Linked DNA regions of Homo sapiens. The protein of the gene in region 5 interacts with the protein of the main gene of each other region in a pairwise test. Each region holds a gene or a part of one and is shown on either strand. Other genes may lie near its edges. The genes, in order: UBE2L6, AKT2, DISC1, IFITM3 and NAMPT.

Region 1 (3,278 bases), on a different chromosome or scaffold from region 5:
GTGGCTCACACCTATAATCCCAGCACTTTGGGAGGCTGAGGCGGGTGGATCACCTGAGGTCAGGAGTTCGAGACCAGCCTGGCCAATGTGGTGAAACCCCATCTTTACTAAAAATACAAAAATTAGCCAGGCGTGGTGGCGGGCATCTGTAATCCCAGTTACTCAAGAGACTGAGGCAGGAGAATCGCTTGAACTCAGGAGGCGGAGGTTGCAGTGAGCCGAGATTGCACTGCTGCACTCTAGCCTGGGCGACGGAGTGAGATTCTGTCTTAAATAAATAAATAAATAAATAAATAAATAAATAAATAAAATAAAATGGGGACGTCACCCCTGTGGACCTTCTGAAAGCTCCTCTGTCCAAGGATGGCCTATTTTTCCATGGCCAACATTCCTTATGATGTTTAGGGAACATTCAAGGGAAGCAAGGTCAGAAATTTATGCTTAAATCCCTAGTCCTCTATGGTCCTGATGAAACCACCCCATCCCCTCATCAAAGACTCAGCTGCACTCCAGAATTCATCTCTGACTTTAATGGCTTAAGCAAGAACATGGTTTCCGTGGCTCCCCCTGGACTGAATGCTGGAGGATATATACTTCACAGTCTGAGGCCTGGTCCCAGGAACTGGCAATCTAACAGGATGGCAAGTGGTTTTGAAACATATAGATTTTCAGGATGGAAGTTTGATTCTTCAGATTGTGACTCATCCGTGGAAAATAAATGGTTTAGCACCTAAATCTGTATATTCCCATCAGTGGCTTGGCTGACTCAGTTGTAAATAGGGTACCCTCCATCTGTCTCCCACCCATATGCTCCACTGTCCCCAGGCCCTCAGTGCCTGAGCCCTAGGGGGATTCGAGTTGGCTGCTGGATTCATTTCCTGCAAGCAGGCCTGCAAGGTGACCTGTCTCTCTAAGATGGAGAGCTGGAGAACTGGCCTGTAACTGCAAACTTAAACTCCCTTGGCTCTGGGGAATGTAAAGGGTGTGGGAAGGGTGCACCTGTGGCCAGGTGAACCTGGGAGTGAGTCCATACACAACACACACACTCATAGCTCCCTTCCCTCCACCACACACACACACAAACTAATGACTAACAACCTAAGAAGGGAAAAATGAATGGGGAATGGGCCACAGGGGGCTCTGGCCTCAGTCCATGAGGTGTGTCCGTCCGCTATGCCGAGGATCCAGTGCACAGAGGGTCAGAACATGAGTTAGGAGGGCCGGTCCACTCCGAATCGGAGGGTGAACTCTTCGGCATTCTTTCTGAACAGCTCCGGATTCTGTGTCAGCAGGTCAGCGAGGTCCATCCGCAGGGGCTCCCTGATATTCGGTCTATTCACCAGCACATTGAGGGCCTCCAGGACTGGGGAGAGACAGGCCAGATCAGGATATCAGGGCAGAGGGAAGGGAGTCATGGCTGCCCGTTCCCAATGTCCTGACACTCCACACTCACTCCTTGGGGGAAAGGTTACATCGCTTAGGATTACTCTACGACCAGATCAAACGCCCCGCTCATTCTTGGCTGGTGACACCCAAGGCCTTGACTGATTACATCAGTGGTTTTCAAACAACTACATTCCATGGCTTCAGAGAAGCTCCTCATCACAGGGGCCACTGAGATAAGTGAGGTTTCTGGGTCTTATCCCCATTTCAACAAAAACTGCTCTGTTTTCCTCCATTATATTGGTAGTCCAAATAAACTTTTCCTTGGGCAAAAGAGGTCTAAGGCTAAAGACTGAAAACCACCACTGCCCCCTGGCTCTTCATCTTTCACAGATGCCTTTGGGAACCTAGTGAAGGCAGCAGCCCATCTCCCGAGACAGATGTGCACATCCACATGCAAAACAGACAGTTCCCAGACCCCCTGAAGCTCATCCAAGGACCACTCCTCTCCCTGCTCCCACTCCCACCAACCTAAGGACTTTCATTTCCTGAGTTAAAAACTCCTGAGCTGGTCCAGGTGGAGGATTGCACACTGATTCAGCCACAGGCTCTAGAGCTGTGTTGTTCAATATGGTAGCCATTAGCCACATGCAGGCATCTAAATTTAAATGAATTAAAATCAGGCTGGGCACGGTGGCTCACGCCTGTAATCCCACCACTTTGGGAGGCCAAGATGGGTGGATGGCTTGAACTCACGAGTTTGAGACCAGCCTGGGCAATATGGCAAAACCTGGTATCTACAAAGCATGCAAAAATTAGCCAGGTATAGTGGCATGCTCCTGTAGTCCCAGTTACTCGGGAGGCTGAGGTGGGAGGATGGCTTGAGCCCAGGAGGTGGAGGTTGCAGTGAGCCAAGATTGCGCCACTGAACTAACTGCCTGGGCAATAGAGACAGACCGTGTCTCAGTAGAAAAAACAAAAAGGATTAAAATTAAGTACAATTAAGAATTGAGTTCTGGCCAGGCGCAGTGACTCACACCTGTAATCCCAGCACTCTGGGAGGCGGAGGCAGGCGGATCGCCTGAGGTCAGGAGTTCGAGACCAGCCTGGCTAACATGGCAAAACCCCTCTCTATTAAAAATACAAAATAGCTGGGTGTGGTGTCATACGCCTGTAATTCCAGCTATTCAAGAAGCTGAGGCCGGAGAATCGCTTGAACCTGGGAGGTGGAGGTTGCAGTGAGCCAAGATCGCGCCACTGCACTCCAGCCTAGGCGACAGAGCGAGACTCTGTCTTAAAAAAGAAAAAGAATTGAGTTCTTCAGTTGCAACAGCCACATGTGGCTTGCGAGTCAGCCAAGTGCTGCCGTTTGTCATCTGTATGACCTTAGGCAACCACTTCACCTCTCACATGCCTCAGATGTCCGGGTCTACTAAACAACACTACCTCACGGGCTTGTTGGGGAAATAAAAATGAAGTCGGCAGGTGATGTTTTTAGCACAGTGCCGAAAGTGCTCAGTCAAGTGACAGGTATTATCATTATGAGGCCAGTTCCCTCCACTGTCATTTAGGACACCGAGTCCCAGAAAGGAACGAAAACTTGCCCAAAGTCCACAGAGGGAACAGCGGGCTTTCTTTTCCCGAGCCCTTCCCTGTGCAGCCAAGCTGCCTCTCCCATGAACCGCAGCAACGTTCCTCTGTCACAACTGCACAGGTATAAGAAGAGAGGCAGGAGGAGGTCAGTCTGTCCAGGAAGCATCCCTTCTATCTCATAGTAAGTTCAGCCAAGACTCACAATTTTTATCTCCTCTCTTTGGGGCTTTTCAAGCTCAGAATAAGCTGTGAACCCCCTCTCCAGTAATCTCTACCCAGTATCAGTCCCTCCTCCAAGCAAA
Region 2 (3,522 bases), on a different chromosome or scaffold from region 5:
GTAAGGACCAGGCTGCTAGGGACAAGACACCTGTGACGTCCCTGCAAGGGAGACAAACAGACATCACGAGAGCCCCGAGGTGCCACCACAGGCTGTGGGAAGTCCCACCTAGAAAGCATTCTTGCCCAAAGAAGGAAAAACAGTGCTTCTTGGTGTGGTCCCCACACAGCACCTCAGCACCGCCTGGGAACTGGCAGCAATGCAAATTCCTGGGACCTACCCCCAGGCCCACTGAGTCAGAAACTCGGGGTGGGCCCAGCACTGTCTCACAAGCCCTTTGGGTGACTCTAATTCAGGTTCTAATTTGGTACCTGACTGTACAGCAGAACCACCAGGAGTGGTTCCAAAAATCTGGAGCCACCTGCAGCAACGTGAACACAGGCTCTCTCTGGGGCAAGTTTATCCCCAGGGGACACCTGAGAATGTCTGAAGTCTTTTTTTTTTTTTTCCCTTTTTTTTTTTAGCTGGGGGTCTGGCTCTGTCGCCCAGGCTGGAGTGCAGTGGTGTGAACATGGGTCACTACAGCCTCAACCTCTGAGGCTCCACTGATCCTCCCACTTCAGCCTCCTGAGCAGCTGGGACTACAGGTGCACGCCACTATGCCCAGCTAATTTATTTTTATTTTTACAGAGACAGGGTCTTGCTTTGTTGCCCAGGCTGGTCTCGAACTCCTGGGCTCAAGCGATCCTCCCACCTCAGCCTTCTAAAGTGCTGGAATTACAGGCGTGAGCTGTGGCGCCCAACCCAAAAGTCATTTTTGATTGTCACAACTTGGGGAGCTAGTATTGGCTTCAGTGGGTAGAAGCCAGGGGTGCTGCTGAAACCCTAGAATGCACAGGGCTGCCCCGACAGCGCAGAATCATCTGTCCCAAAACGTTAACAGTGCTGAGGCTGAGGAAGGCTGCCTTAGGCCCAATCGTCACATCAGGAATGAACAGCTAATTTGGTTGGCTCTGATGGCAGCACCACATGATTATATTCTTTACAGTCTTCATCTGTCAGGACACATGTTCAAGTATGGATGAGTGAAGTGACGTGTTGTCTAGGACAGGCCTTAAAGTATTCCAGAACAAGAGGGACAGGCAGAGCTAAGGAAACAAGGCTGGCTAAACGCTGATAACTGGTTAAACTGGACAATGGCTACATGGGGGTCCGTAATATTTATTTTCTTTTTAAATTTTTGAATGTCTTTGGAATCTTCCACTACAAAAAATTCAAATAAGGGAAAAAGTAGAATTCCACTCCTGGCCCGGCCTCCACCTGGGATACCCTGAGCAAAGCCCGGGACTCCCCAACAGCGACGTCCTCCCCAACAGGCCCCAGCCTCCCTTGACAGTACCTGCTGGGTGGGGCCCCGAGGCTCTCTCTCTCCACAGGCACCCCCAGCCCCTAACATAGGGTGGAGGTGGGGACTCAGCAGCAAGGCCTGCTGCTCCTCTCTGGGCCTCAGGCTCCCCCTTTTCTGACTAGGGGGAATTTGTGGGGGAAATAAGCCCACAGCAGCAGAAAGCGCGGGTAAGCGTCCAGGCCTCAGGGTCAGGCTCCAGACCGCAGCCCCCACAGAGGCTCGCGAGCGCAATTCCCGGGGCACGCACCTTGGCAATGATGACTTCCTTCCGCAGGATCTTCATGGCGTAGTAGCGGCCAGTGGCCTTCTCCCGCACCAGGATGACTTTGCCAAAGGTTCCCTTGCCAAGGAGTTTGAGATAGTCGAAGTCATTCATGGTCTGCCAGGGACAGGGAGAGTGGGGGCAGTCAGCGCCTGGCTCATGGCCCGTGGGAGGAAATTTTAACAAAAGAAAGAGGAAAACCAAAAGACACTGTTGCCAAACGGCTTAGGCTGGAGCAGGAAGGGAGGCTCTGGGCAGCAACTGTGTGTTCTGAAGCGGCCTTCAGACCAGGCTCTGCAGGCACAGGGCCTTGGGAGGGCTGGGCTCTGACGTGGGGGTAGCCAGGTCTTCACCAACTCCCAGGACGAACCTGCAGTGGGTCCACCCAAGGTTGCTCCCTCCCCTACGGGCATGGAGCACACCCTAGGGCACCTGCCACCTGAAATCACCCCACCCTGCAGGGCAGCCTTGTCTCTCAGCTGAGCCCCCTGAACTGTGTTATGGAAACCAAGGAGAGCAGGCCAGCACTGGGGGTGGGGGCACCGCAGGCTGGCAGCCCCACCCCTGCTCCCAGCACTTACCACTTTAGCCCGTGCCTTGCTGACCGCCACTTCCATCTCCTCAGTCGTGGAGGAGTCACTGGGGGAGCCACACTTGTAGTCCATGGGGTCCTCGCCTGGGGCCCGCTGCTTGAGGCTGTTGGCGACCATCTGGATGGCCCGCATCCACTCCTCCCTGTGCAGGGACACACGTGAGTCCCAGCAGCCAGGAGTCCTGGGCCTCAGAGTCGAACAGCTGAGTGCCACCTCCCAGCCACCCCCAGCAACAGGCAAGCAAATGACCACATAACCATGGGAATTTGGGCAAGATCTGTCAGAACCAGAGAGAGCTGAAGGGACCTGAGTGAAATTCCACGCCAGGCGCAGTGGCTCATGCCTATAATCCCAGCACTTTGGGAGGCTGAGGCGGATGGATCACAAGGTCAGGAGTTCGAGACCAGCCTGGCCAACATGGTGAAACCCCGTCTCTACTAAAAATACAAAAATTAGTCAGGGGTGGCATTCGCCTAATCCCAGCTACTCAGGAGGCTGAGGCAGGAGAATTGCTTGAACCCGGGAGGCGGAGGGTGCAGTGAGCAGAGATCGCACCACTGCACTCCAGCCTGGTGACAGTGCGAGACTCCGTCTCAAAAAAAAAAAAAAAGTGGAATACCAAGAGCGATCACCAATTTCCCTAAAGTGACCTGGCCTGAGGGCCATTTGAAGCCAGGCAGCAGGGAAATGATCAAAAAGGAGTGACCCTCTCTTTTCACAGCCCCTTGAAAATGAGCCACCACCCTGAGCCTTGAATGAGGGAGAGAGAGTGCTCCTGTGAATTCTTCGGAACAAATGACAAGCTCAAGTTTATAAGTTACCAATGTTTTGTAAAGTTAAACCAAGAGTAAGAAGCAGCATTCATTAGCCAAAGGAGCTGAAGACACTGCAAGGCAAGAGCTGGCCCGCAGGACTCCCTGGAGGGGACAGTCCACTGGGAGCAGGGAGTCTGCATGGCAGGGACAGAGGTCCTGGCAGCCCAGGGATGTAGAGGAGAGAAGCTGGTGGACAAGAAGTAGGTCCCAGCAGAAGGGAGCCTGGTTTAAGAACAGTTAACTAGAGGCTAAGCACTGTGGCTCACACCTGTAATCCCAGCATTTTGGGAGGCCAAGGTGGACCAAGTGCTTGAGCCGAAGCGTTCAAGACCAGCCTAGGTAACAAAGCAAGACCCATCTCTTAAAAAGTTTTTAAAAAACAAAAATAAAAAATAAAAACAGGCCAGGTGCGATGGCTCACGCCTGTAATCCCAGCACTTTGGGAGGCCAAGGTGGAGGATCACTTGAGGTCAGGAGTTCGAGACCAGCCTGGCCAACATAGTA
Region 3 (3,522 bases), on a different chromosome or scaffold from region 5:
ACATGAAGACCATTTAAAAGTTCTGATTTTACTCTGAAGTTCATGGGGCGCCACTGGAGAGTTTGGGGCAGAGGAGCACATGATCTGACTTATGTTTTAAACAGTTTCACTCTGGCTGCTGTTAGTAAGAGCAGAAGAAGGGAGGCCAGGTAAGAGGCTATGGGAACATTCAGGAAGGAGATGACAGGAGCTTGGATGATAGTGAGGATGGTGGCAATGGTGAAGATGGTGAGATGTGATCTGATTCCGGTTATATTCAGAAGACCGCTGGTTAAATATAGAGCCAACAGGATTTGCTAATACATCACAGGTGGGGTCTGAGGAAAATGCACCAGGATGATGCCAAGGTTTGTTTTGTTTTTTGTTTTTTGGGTTTTTTTTTCTGACCCACTGGAAGAATGGAGTACTTATTGCACCAGGTTATAGCCATCATTTTCCTTTGTTTGGTTTTATCTGTGCACATCATTCAACCTTGAGCATCTGGGGGGCAAGAACTATTTTGCATCCATGTATAGGATGCTAGTACTTACACTGACTTGATTTTCCACTGCTTTGGGCACATGGAAAGAGTACAAGTGCCTCTCTCCTTGTTCTGCTGAACAGGGTATGAGTGGCAGTGATGGGGTTACCTCTACGCTGAAGCATTTGATCGCTCTTGTAGGACTCCCTAACATTCTCTTCCTCAAGTCTGTGACTAAGGGGATCATATGTTCAGATGGTGCAGGCTGGGTTCTTGCCCCCCAAAAATCTCTGTGGAACATGAAGCATACGCAAAAAACACAATTTTGTTGTGTTGAGCCTCTAACGTAGTGCCTGTTACTAGCCTGTCCTAATACAATCTCCAAAGCCTAGGATAAGGCATTGTACTCGTTGTCATTGATAAATGCTTTCTGAATGAATGAAAGAATGAATGAATAATCATATTAACCCCTTTGTCTTTGAATTGTTCTATATTACAACTGCAAAGTTTACCAGTAACTTAGTCCTATATATTAGGGACAGAAGAAAGGCTGTGTGAATGGTTTGAGGGCCACATAAAGCTATAGCATTACCATCGCCACACCCAAATGATGGTATCATTAAACATTTATTAGAACAGAAGCTGAAGAAATGCAGGAAACAAGGTCAGGAAAAAAATTCATTTACAGCCAAAGCCCACCCCACGATGCCCACCTCGTCCAGTGATCTCTATAAGGCCCTGAATGGACTGCCCTGAGATATGTCTGAATACCCGTCTTTGCTGGAGGCACAGCCCCAGTGGCCATGTCTTGCACTGTGCCACAACCCTGCCTGTGGAACGTCCTATAATACTCTACAGGCAGAGTCCTTCATTTTTCACCAGTTTCCATGGCCTTAGGTGGAGCCTACCTTGCAGGGCCCACTCCACTTCCCCTCCTCTGCATGCCTGGTCACCAACTACCTTTATTACCATCTTCTCAGTCCCATGCAACCCCTGGAAATCTCGCTAAGCAGCGATTTCTAAACAGCATAAAATATTCACAGTCGATTCTCCTTATTCACAGTACTGTAGTTATGTTCTATAAAGTTTCTGTGAATACTGAATTAGGGAATAATGAAGCATTGCTCCTAAGAGAAATACAGGGTAGGTTCCTGTGAACCCCTGGTCACAACACCTTCCTCCATCGGTCAACACATGACCTTGTTCTATGTGTGTTTCTGTTTAAAAACATCTTATTTAATATGTATTATTGATCCATAAGCATTGTACTCTGGCCAACAGCACTCTAACTCATGCCTGAATAAAGTTTCTGGAGCACCTGTATCTTCTCCATCAGGCCCATCACAGCCTTCTCATGCTTAGGAGCACTAGATGACATTAGCACTATGCTTAGGGAGCTTTTGCAATGGTTAACTCACCAATAAAGAGCACAAAAATGTAAAAAAAGATGGCATTAAATAGACCACAAAAAGGATACTAGTTTGTAGTATGAGAGAGAAGGTAGAATGTCATCTGGTCTGAACTTGTTTGACCTAAGTAGAAAGCGTGTACATCAGGTGACCCAAATATTTTGCCACTCTGTGCAGGTTCAAAATTACCACCAGGCATGGTGGCTCATGCCTGTAATCCCAGTACCTTGGAGGCTGAGGCAGGAGGATCATTTGAGGCCAAGAGTTCAAGACCAGTTTGGGCAACGTGGCAAGACCCTCATCTCTACCCAAAAAAAAAAAAAAAAAAAAATTAGCCAGGCATGGTGGCATGCGCCTGTAGTCCCAGCCACTAGGGAGGCTGAGGCAAGAGAATCGCTTGAGCCCAGGAGTTCAAGGTTGCAGTGAGTTATGATCACACCACTGCACCCCAGCCTGGAAGACAGAGACCCCGTCTCTTAAAAAATAAAATAAAAATGAAAAATGACCATAAAAGTGCTGTGAGTACTGATTTTGGAGTTAACAACAAATTTTAGCAAGTAGACGAATTCACACATATAGAATCCACAAACACTGAGGATCAACCATCTTTTAGAAGAAGCTGAAACTTAAATTCCTGAGATTCTCATTTTTACTTAAGTAGAAGCGAGAGGAGGTTAAGGAATTAAAATATAATATCAATAAGGCCCCCAAACACTAGAAATCCTACTCTTTCAAAGGATCTTTTTGGAGATCCTTCACCGACCTTCTGCCCTGTCCCGAAGGCCTCAGCCGCAACCCCAGTGAGCAGTCTGGGGCCTCTGTGTAAGCACCATGGGAAAACAAGTCCCTGACCAGCCCACCTCATCACAGACAATTCCCACTGTCAAGAGGTTCTTCCTCCTATTGAGGCAAACTCTGCCTTCCTGTAAGTCCTATGCCCTGGACTGTGTTATTTCTGTCATTCCCACTACTCTGTTAATTCCGCTGTCACACAACAGATACTCAAGTACAGCCTAGCGTTACTTAATGACAGGGATGCATTCTGAGAAATGCATTATTAGGTGACTTCATCATTGTGTGAACATCGTAGAGTGTGCTTACACAAATCTGGATGGTGTAGCCCATTACACACCTAGGCTAGATGGAATAGTCTATTGCTCCTTGGCTACAAACCTGTGCAGCATGTGACTGTACTGAATACTGCAGACAAGTGTCACACAATGGTAAGGTATTGTTGTATCTAAACATATCTGAACATAGAAAGGGTACAACAAAAACACAGTACGATAATCTCACAGGACCACTGTCACATCATATATGTGATCCGTCATTGGCCAAAATGTCATTATGCAGTACATGAGTGTAATTGAAGAGAGTGTCATGTTTTTCCCTGCCCAGCTGTGGGACTGCCATAGACAACAATACTTACACTAAAGAAAAAGTGTGTCCAGATTCTACCATTTGAGATAAGATAGGAATTTAATTTGAGCTATGGACAGAAGGGAGAGCTTCATTTGCTTTTGACTCAAACTCTCTAAATTGGAGCTATTTCTCTAATGATGACAATGGTTAATTTCTGGGTACTTGCTAGATGCCAGGCCCTGTCTGAAGCACTTTGCACATATGATCACATTTAGTTTAATTAACTGGAGA
Region 4 (2,857 bases), on a different chromosome or scaffold from region 5:
CCACGGGCCCTGAGCTGCCCACATCTGCAGGACTGGCTGCTCCAGACAGCTCGGAGGCAGGCAGCGCGGTGCCCCCTCCACCCCGAGGAACTAAAGCCAGGTCCCCAGCACCACAGAGCAGGGCCTGGGAGCAGCTGGGGAGCCGGTGCCACCTTGCCCCTCCCTGGCCCTGCTGGGGGCTTAACCCTTCCCTCTGTCCTGAGCCGACAGCCTGGATTGCCGACAGGCCGCGAGCGTGGCCTTGGGCCCAGGGTGTCCCGGACTCAGCACTGACGTTCCCGGAAAGAGCCCACGTTGAGTAGGAGCTGAGACCTGCAGGACACAGGAACTCCTCCCAGGGTCCTGGATCCAGCTGCTGCTCACGGCAGGAGGCCCGAAACCAGAAGGCCTGAGCACTTGCCCGGTCCCCAAGAGATGCACAGAGGCCGGAAGGGGCAGTGCAGGGGCTGACCAACCTGCTCAGTCTCAGAACCACGCTCCGAACCCTCAGCCAGACCCCTCCCCAGGTGAAGTCGCAGCAGCACCAGAAACACGTGCACTTTATTGAATGCCATTGTAGAAAAGCGTGTGAGGATAAAGGGCTGATACAGGACTCGGCTCCGGGGGCAGGGCGAGGAATGGAAGTTGGAGTACGTGGGATACAGGTCATGGGCAGAGCTCCTGGCCTCAGTGATGCCTCCTGATCTATCCATAGGCCTGGAAGATCAGCACTGGGATGACGATGAGCAGAATGGTCATGAGGATGCCCAGAATCAGGGCCCAGATGTTCAGGCACTTGGCGGTGGAGGCATAGGCCTGGGCCCCGGTCACGTCGCCAACCATCTTCCTGTCCCTAGACTGGGGGAGAGGAGATGGTGAGGGGACCAGGATCCCCCAGCTGAGAGCCGCGTGCTATGGCTCCGTCTCCTCATTGGCTCTCCCCGCCCTGAGATCAGGGACCACCTCCTCCCCTTCCTCACCCGGGCTCAGACTCTCCAGGAGCCTCGGGGCTCATCCTCCTTCTGCCTTGACCTCAGCACAGGCTGTTCTCCCCACCATGGGGTGAAGTCACCTGTGAGTTCCCTTCTCACTTTCTGGGAGAGCCTGGGTGCCAGTCTGGAAGGTGAAGGTGTAATTTCTTACTGGGCTATAGGGAGAACTGCTCTGGGCTAGTGGATAGCCGGGGACAGACTCTGAGCCAGCCAGCCAGCCTCCTGGAGCCTCCTCCTAAACCTGCACTGGGCAGATTCCCCAAGCCACACACACACACAGATCACACAGACAAAGCCACTGACGTGGGCACACACGGGACAGAGGTGCACACAAACTCACAGTCACAGGGACACACAAGTCCCCACCCCAGGCAGCATGTGGGCAGGTGGAGCTCCAGGCTCAGCGGCACCCTCTGAGCATTCCCTGGGGCCATACGCACCTTCACGGAGTAGGCGAATGCTATGAAGCCCAGGCAGCAGGGGTTCATGAAGAGGGTGTTGAACAGGGACCAGACGACATGGTCGGGCACGGAGGTCTCGCTGCGGATGTGGATCACGGTGGACGTCGGGGGAGCAGGGTTGTGGGGCGCCCCCAGCACAGCCACCTCGTGCTCCTCCTTGAGCATCTCATAGTTGGGGGGCTGGCCACTGTTGACAGGAGAGAAGAAGGTTTGGACAGTGTGATTCATGGTGTCCAGCGAAGACCAGCGGCGGTCGGGTTACTGGGATGGTTCTCAGTGAGCCCTCCCTTTCCCCAGTAGTTTCGGTTTCTCAACAGTTTCCTTTTCCTGGCATTTGTCAAATCGGGATTTGGCCGGGGCCAGATGAGGGCGGAACAAATTCCTGAGGATCAAATTACTTTAGGAGAGGGAGGAAAGAGGGGCTGAGGGCTAAGAGGGGCTTCCTCTCTAGAGCCCAAGGGAGCACAAGGCTCATCTTGTTAGTGGTGTGGGGTCCTGGAGACTTCCCCTGTGTTGGGGGTCTCCACACCCCAGGCCAGCAGCTGCAGGACCCCACTGTCCCGGTTCAGGGCTCCTGCCAGGCCTGCGCTGACGCCTCCACACTCCAGGCCCCACAACCGTTCCCCCAAAGCCCTCACCTCTGCCGGGCGCCGCGGCTCACGCCTGTAATCCCAGCACTTTGGGAGGCTGAGGTGGGAGGATCATGAGGTCAGGAGATCGAGACCATCCTGGCTGACACGGTGAAACCCCGTCTCCCATAACCCTCACTGTGGTGCCCAGGCAGCTGGATTATCCCATTACCTTCACTATGGTGCCCAGGCAGCTGGATTATCCCATTACCTTCACTATGGTGCCCAGGCAGCTGGATTATCCCATTACCTTCACTATGGTGCCCAGGCAGCTGGATTATCCCATTACCTTCACTATGGTGCCCAGGCAGCTGGATTATCCCATTACCTTCACTATGGTGCCCAGGCAGCTGGATTATCCCATTACCTTCACTATGGTGCCCAGGCAGCTGGATTATCCCATAACCCTCACTGTGGTGCCCAGGCAGCCGGATTATCCCATTACCTTCACTATGGTGCCCAGGCAGCTGGATTATCCCATAACCCTCACTGTGGTGCCCAGGCAGCCGGATTATCCCATTACCTTCAGTGTGGTGCCCAGGCAGCCGGATTATCCCATTACCTTCAGTGTGGTGCCCAGGCAGCTGGATTATCCCATAACCCTCACTGTGGTGCCCAGGCAGCTGGATTATCCCATTACCTTCACTATGGTGCCCAGGCAGCTGGATTATCCCATAACCCTCACTGTGGTGCCCAGGCAGCCGGATTATCCCATTACCTTCAGTGTGGTGCCCAGGCAGCCGGATTATCCCATTACCTTCAGTGTGGTGCCCAGGCAGCTGGATTATCCCATTAC
Region 5 (3,115 bases):
TGTGGCAAGAAAACAGCCAAAGGCAGTAACTAAATAAATGGGTGTGGCTATGTTCCAATACAGTTATTTACAAAAACAGATGGTGGGCTGGATTTGGCTCATGGCGTGGGGTTTGCCAACTCCTGCTCTATACTATCCCTAGAAGAGTATCCTTTACTGTGTGCTTCCAAAGATGTATACCTTCCAAGGTATACATCAGTCATACCTTGAGGCCCTTCTGTCCACAAACCTGTATCATCAACTGCCTACTTAATACCTACATTTAGATATGTCAAAGGCGTCTCAAGCCTTAACACGGGAATCGTGCTCTTTCCTCTCAAATCTGATGTCCCTCCAGTGTTCTTCCTTAGTAAAAGGCACTGTCATCTATACAGTTGCACAAAGCAGAAAAGGAGTCAACTCTGACACTTGCCCTTCTCTCATCTTCTAATTCTTTGAACTGGAGGAATACTTAAAACAGGTAGGCCTGAAAATGGCATTACTTGAAGCACACAAATTTAACACTTCACTAATAGAGCTAAACTTTATTTCCATGTTTATTACATGTTTATAACTTGATGTTGAGTACATATTAGAATAGACTTAACATACAACTTGGGAGAAAAGCTGACATTCTCCACTGAATGGGTTAAAAAGGAATGTAAAACTACAAAATACTTAAGTGTGAGTTCTAAATTATGGCAAACAGAACAATAAATACCTTGCCATTTTTCTTTCTAATTTTCCAAGATAGATTTCATTATAAAAATTGTTTGATAACAATTTAAGAAGGGAAAACAAGGGATACTCATAAAAAACATTTTACTTTAATTATAGGGTACAAATAAGAGTCTTAACACAGAAATCCTACCTCCTATTTAAGATATAAATACTTGATGATATAATCAATCAAGAGGGATTAATTAATGTCAGTTGAAAATCTAATGACTTAAATCCATAAATGCCATTTGCTTTTGTCTGGAAGATTTAGACTGATTTAAGGGTGACACACAGCAGAGTTCTAGTGGACATTCGTGTTAACCGTTTGGTGCTCAGAATGGAGATGGCCAAATACCAAGTGCTTAGTGACAGAAAGTCAGAATTAATCAGTTCCAAGTGACTAAGAGCCAATAGAATTAATCTCCATCTCCTGATTTATGGTTGTGAACAAAGAGATAGCTTTTTTCACTGCAAATTTCTAAATTAAACTCTATTCTGAAGCTGCTGAAATTCACAGAACACAGAGAATACTGTCTGTACTATAATTTCAATGTTTAAACACAAAATTATGGGTGATTATCAAAACTATTATTGGTAATAGTTTCTTTTGATTCTTTACACGCCCCTTAGCACATTTTGTGAAGAAATGTGTGTTTTTCTTAATACTACTCATCTTTACTCAAATACATTAAAAAATCATTTTAAAATTATTTTATATCATGGATTACAGAAGACTTACTAAAAGTGAATAATGCTTATTGTTCTCACTACATGTTTAAAGAACCATCTGAAAAACATATTCTTTCTAATACCACTTACAAAAAACATTTAATGAAGATAACACTTCTAATTAGGTTATTCTAGTGATCATTTTCTCATGTAACTATTTAAAACAGATGATTTATGGCTTTTCAATTTTTAAAATTTCACATTTAATGTCATGTTAAAAACTTTTCTAAATCAGTCTTCCAGTATCGGATTCTTAAGTGAGAAAAAAGAAGACAAAAGAGGAAAATTCCGTATCAATTATTTAGCCTCCTCCCTTCCCTAGAAACCAACATTTCCTTTTAAATGCAAGGCACACTCCTTTTCTTAGAACAGAGATCAGGAAACTTTTTGTGTAATTTTGTGTAAAGGGCAGGTTAATAAACATTTTGGGCTTTGCGATTCTCATTTGGCTTCTATTGCAGCTGTTTACCTTAGGCTGGAGTAGTGGGAAAGCAGCCATAGACAATCTGCATTTATAAAAAGAAGTCCAAATTTGGCCTTTGGGCTATAGTTGGCCAACCGCTGCCTCAGAAGAACAGATCTACATACATAAAAGAATCATTCGAAAGAAACTGGTCTCTAGTCAGATGTGATGTATGATTCAGAATCTAGTAGCTAATCACTCTAGAACATTTTGATGTCAAGCACTTTGAATTTAGCCAACTTAAGATTCTTCTATTGAAACACATGTCATGCTTTTCATTGGAGATAATTTATCTTCATTTAAGAATGTGCTTCAGTATTACTTATTGAGGGCATTCAGTTTAAAATTAATAAATGATGTCCATACAATTTAATATCCAATTTAATTTTTTAAAAACTTAATAAAAAATATAACAGAATTGAAACATTTAAGTACACTCACTACCCACTCCAGTAATTCATTTAAGTCATACCAACTATAGAATATGAAAAATAAATTCAGAAGTGTAATTACTTTAAAATACACTACTTCCACTTTTGTAAGTATTTTACATTTATGTATATATTCTATAGTGGAAGCAGAAATTCTCTCTAAAAACATTATCTCCTTAAAATCTTGAGGTGCATATTAGAGCCACAGGCAATCTCTGACATATAAAATTGCAGTACAGGCCTTTCAAATTTGGCATTTCACTGGTACAATACAACAACCAAGATATATAATAACTGTACAGTGCCTAGACATTCCAGTAAGAACCATTATTTTCTTTAATGTAGAATGATTAATACATATTCTACAAGGGGCAGTAAGGTTAGTAATTCTATAGGGTATGTCCCGACATAATTTTCAAATTGTACAATAACACAAACAACTTTGTTAAGGCCATGTTTTATTTGCTGATTAATGGACAAAAGGCAATGTAATTTATTTTCAAGTATTTTCTTGAAAGTCTGTGCTCATAAAAATCATGAAAAGTTGGAAAGACTGTTAAATCACTGAAACTTCAAATATATCTTACACAATCTTGTTTGTACAAAAATACAAGTTAAATATAAACATAAAGCAATCATGGTAATTTTATGCAAATCTGTTTTATGTGATCATCAGTTATATATAAAAGTTTCTCAGTTCTGTTATTTGTGAAAAGATCAATACCAGATTGAATGACTACCTATTGGCAAAGGGCCCTAAAAAGCTTACTTTAGCACTCATCTTTTACATGGT

The links.
Region 1: the proteins of NAMPT (region 5) and UBE2L6 interact in a two-hybrid assay, tested with the Homo sapiens proteins (one study listed by IntAct).
Region 2: the proteins of NAMPT (region 5) and AKT2 interact in a two-hybrid assay, tested with the Homo sapiens proteins (one large-scale study listed by BioGRID and IntAct).
Region 3: the proteins of NAMPT (region 5) and DISC1 interact in a two-hybrid assay, tested with the Homo sapiens proteins (one large-scale study listed by IntAct).
Region 4: the proteins of NAMPT (region 5) and IFITM3 interact in binary tests that used the Homo sapiens proteins (3 or more experiments, as listed by UniProt).

Annotation. Positions count from the first base shown.
Region 1 is NC_000011.10:57,551,147-57,554,424, forward strand, and holds the end of UBE2L6 (ubiquitin/ISG15-conjugating enzyme E2 L6), read right to left. Parts: intron 1,364-3,278; coding exon 1,212-1,363; 3' UTR 516-1,211; downstream 1-515. UniProt on the Homo sapiens protein: Catalyzes the covalent attachment of ubiquitin or ISG15 to other proteins. Functions in the E6/E6-AP-induced ubiquitination of p53/TP53. Promotes ubiquitination and subsequent proteasomal degradation of FLT3.
Region 2 is NC_000019.10:40,240,343-40,243,864, forward strand, and holds part of AKT2 (RAC-beta serine/threonine-protein kinase), read right to left. Parts: intron 2,346-3,522; coding exon 2,192-2,345; intron 1,728-2,191; coding exon 1,596-1,727; intron 1-1,595. UniProt on the Homo sapiens protein: Serine/threonine kinase closely related to AKT1 and AKT3. All 3 enzymes, AKT1, AKT2 and AKT3, are collectively known as AKT kinase.
Region 3 is NC_000001.11:231,696,285-231,699,806, reverse strand, and holds part of DISC1 (disrupted in schizophrenia 1 protein), read right to left. Parts: intron 1-3,522. UniProt on the Homo sapiens protein: Involved in the regulation of multiple aspects of embryonic and adult neurogenesis. Required for neural progenitor proliferation in the ventrical/subventrical zone during embryonic brain development and in the adult dentate gyrus of the hippocampus.
Region 4 is NC_000011.10:319,154-322,010, forward strand, and holds IFITM3 (interferon-induced transmembrane protein 3), read right to left. Parts: upstream 1,708-2,857; 5' UTR 1,661-1,707; coding exon 1,412-1,660; intron 838-1,411; coding exon 685-837; 3' UTR 523-684; downstream 1-522.
Region 5 is NC_000007.14:106,247,789-106,250,903, forward strand, and holds the end of NAMPT (nicotinamide phosphoribosyltransferase precursor), read right to left. Parts: 3' UTR 510-3,115; downstream 1-509.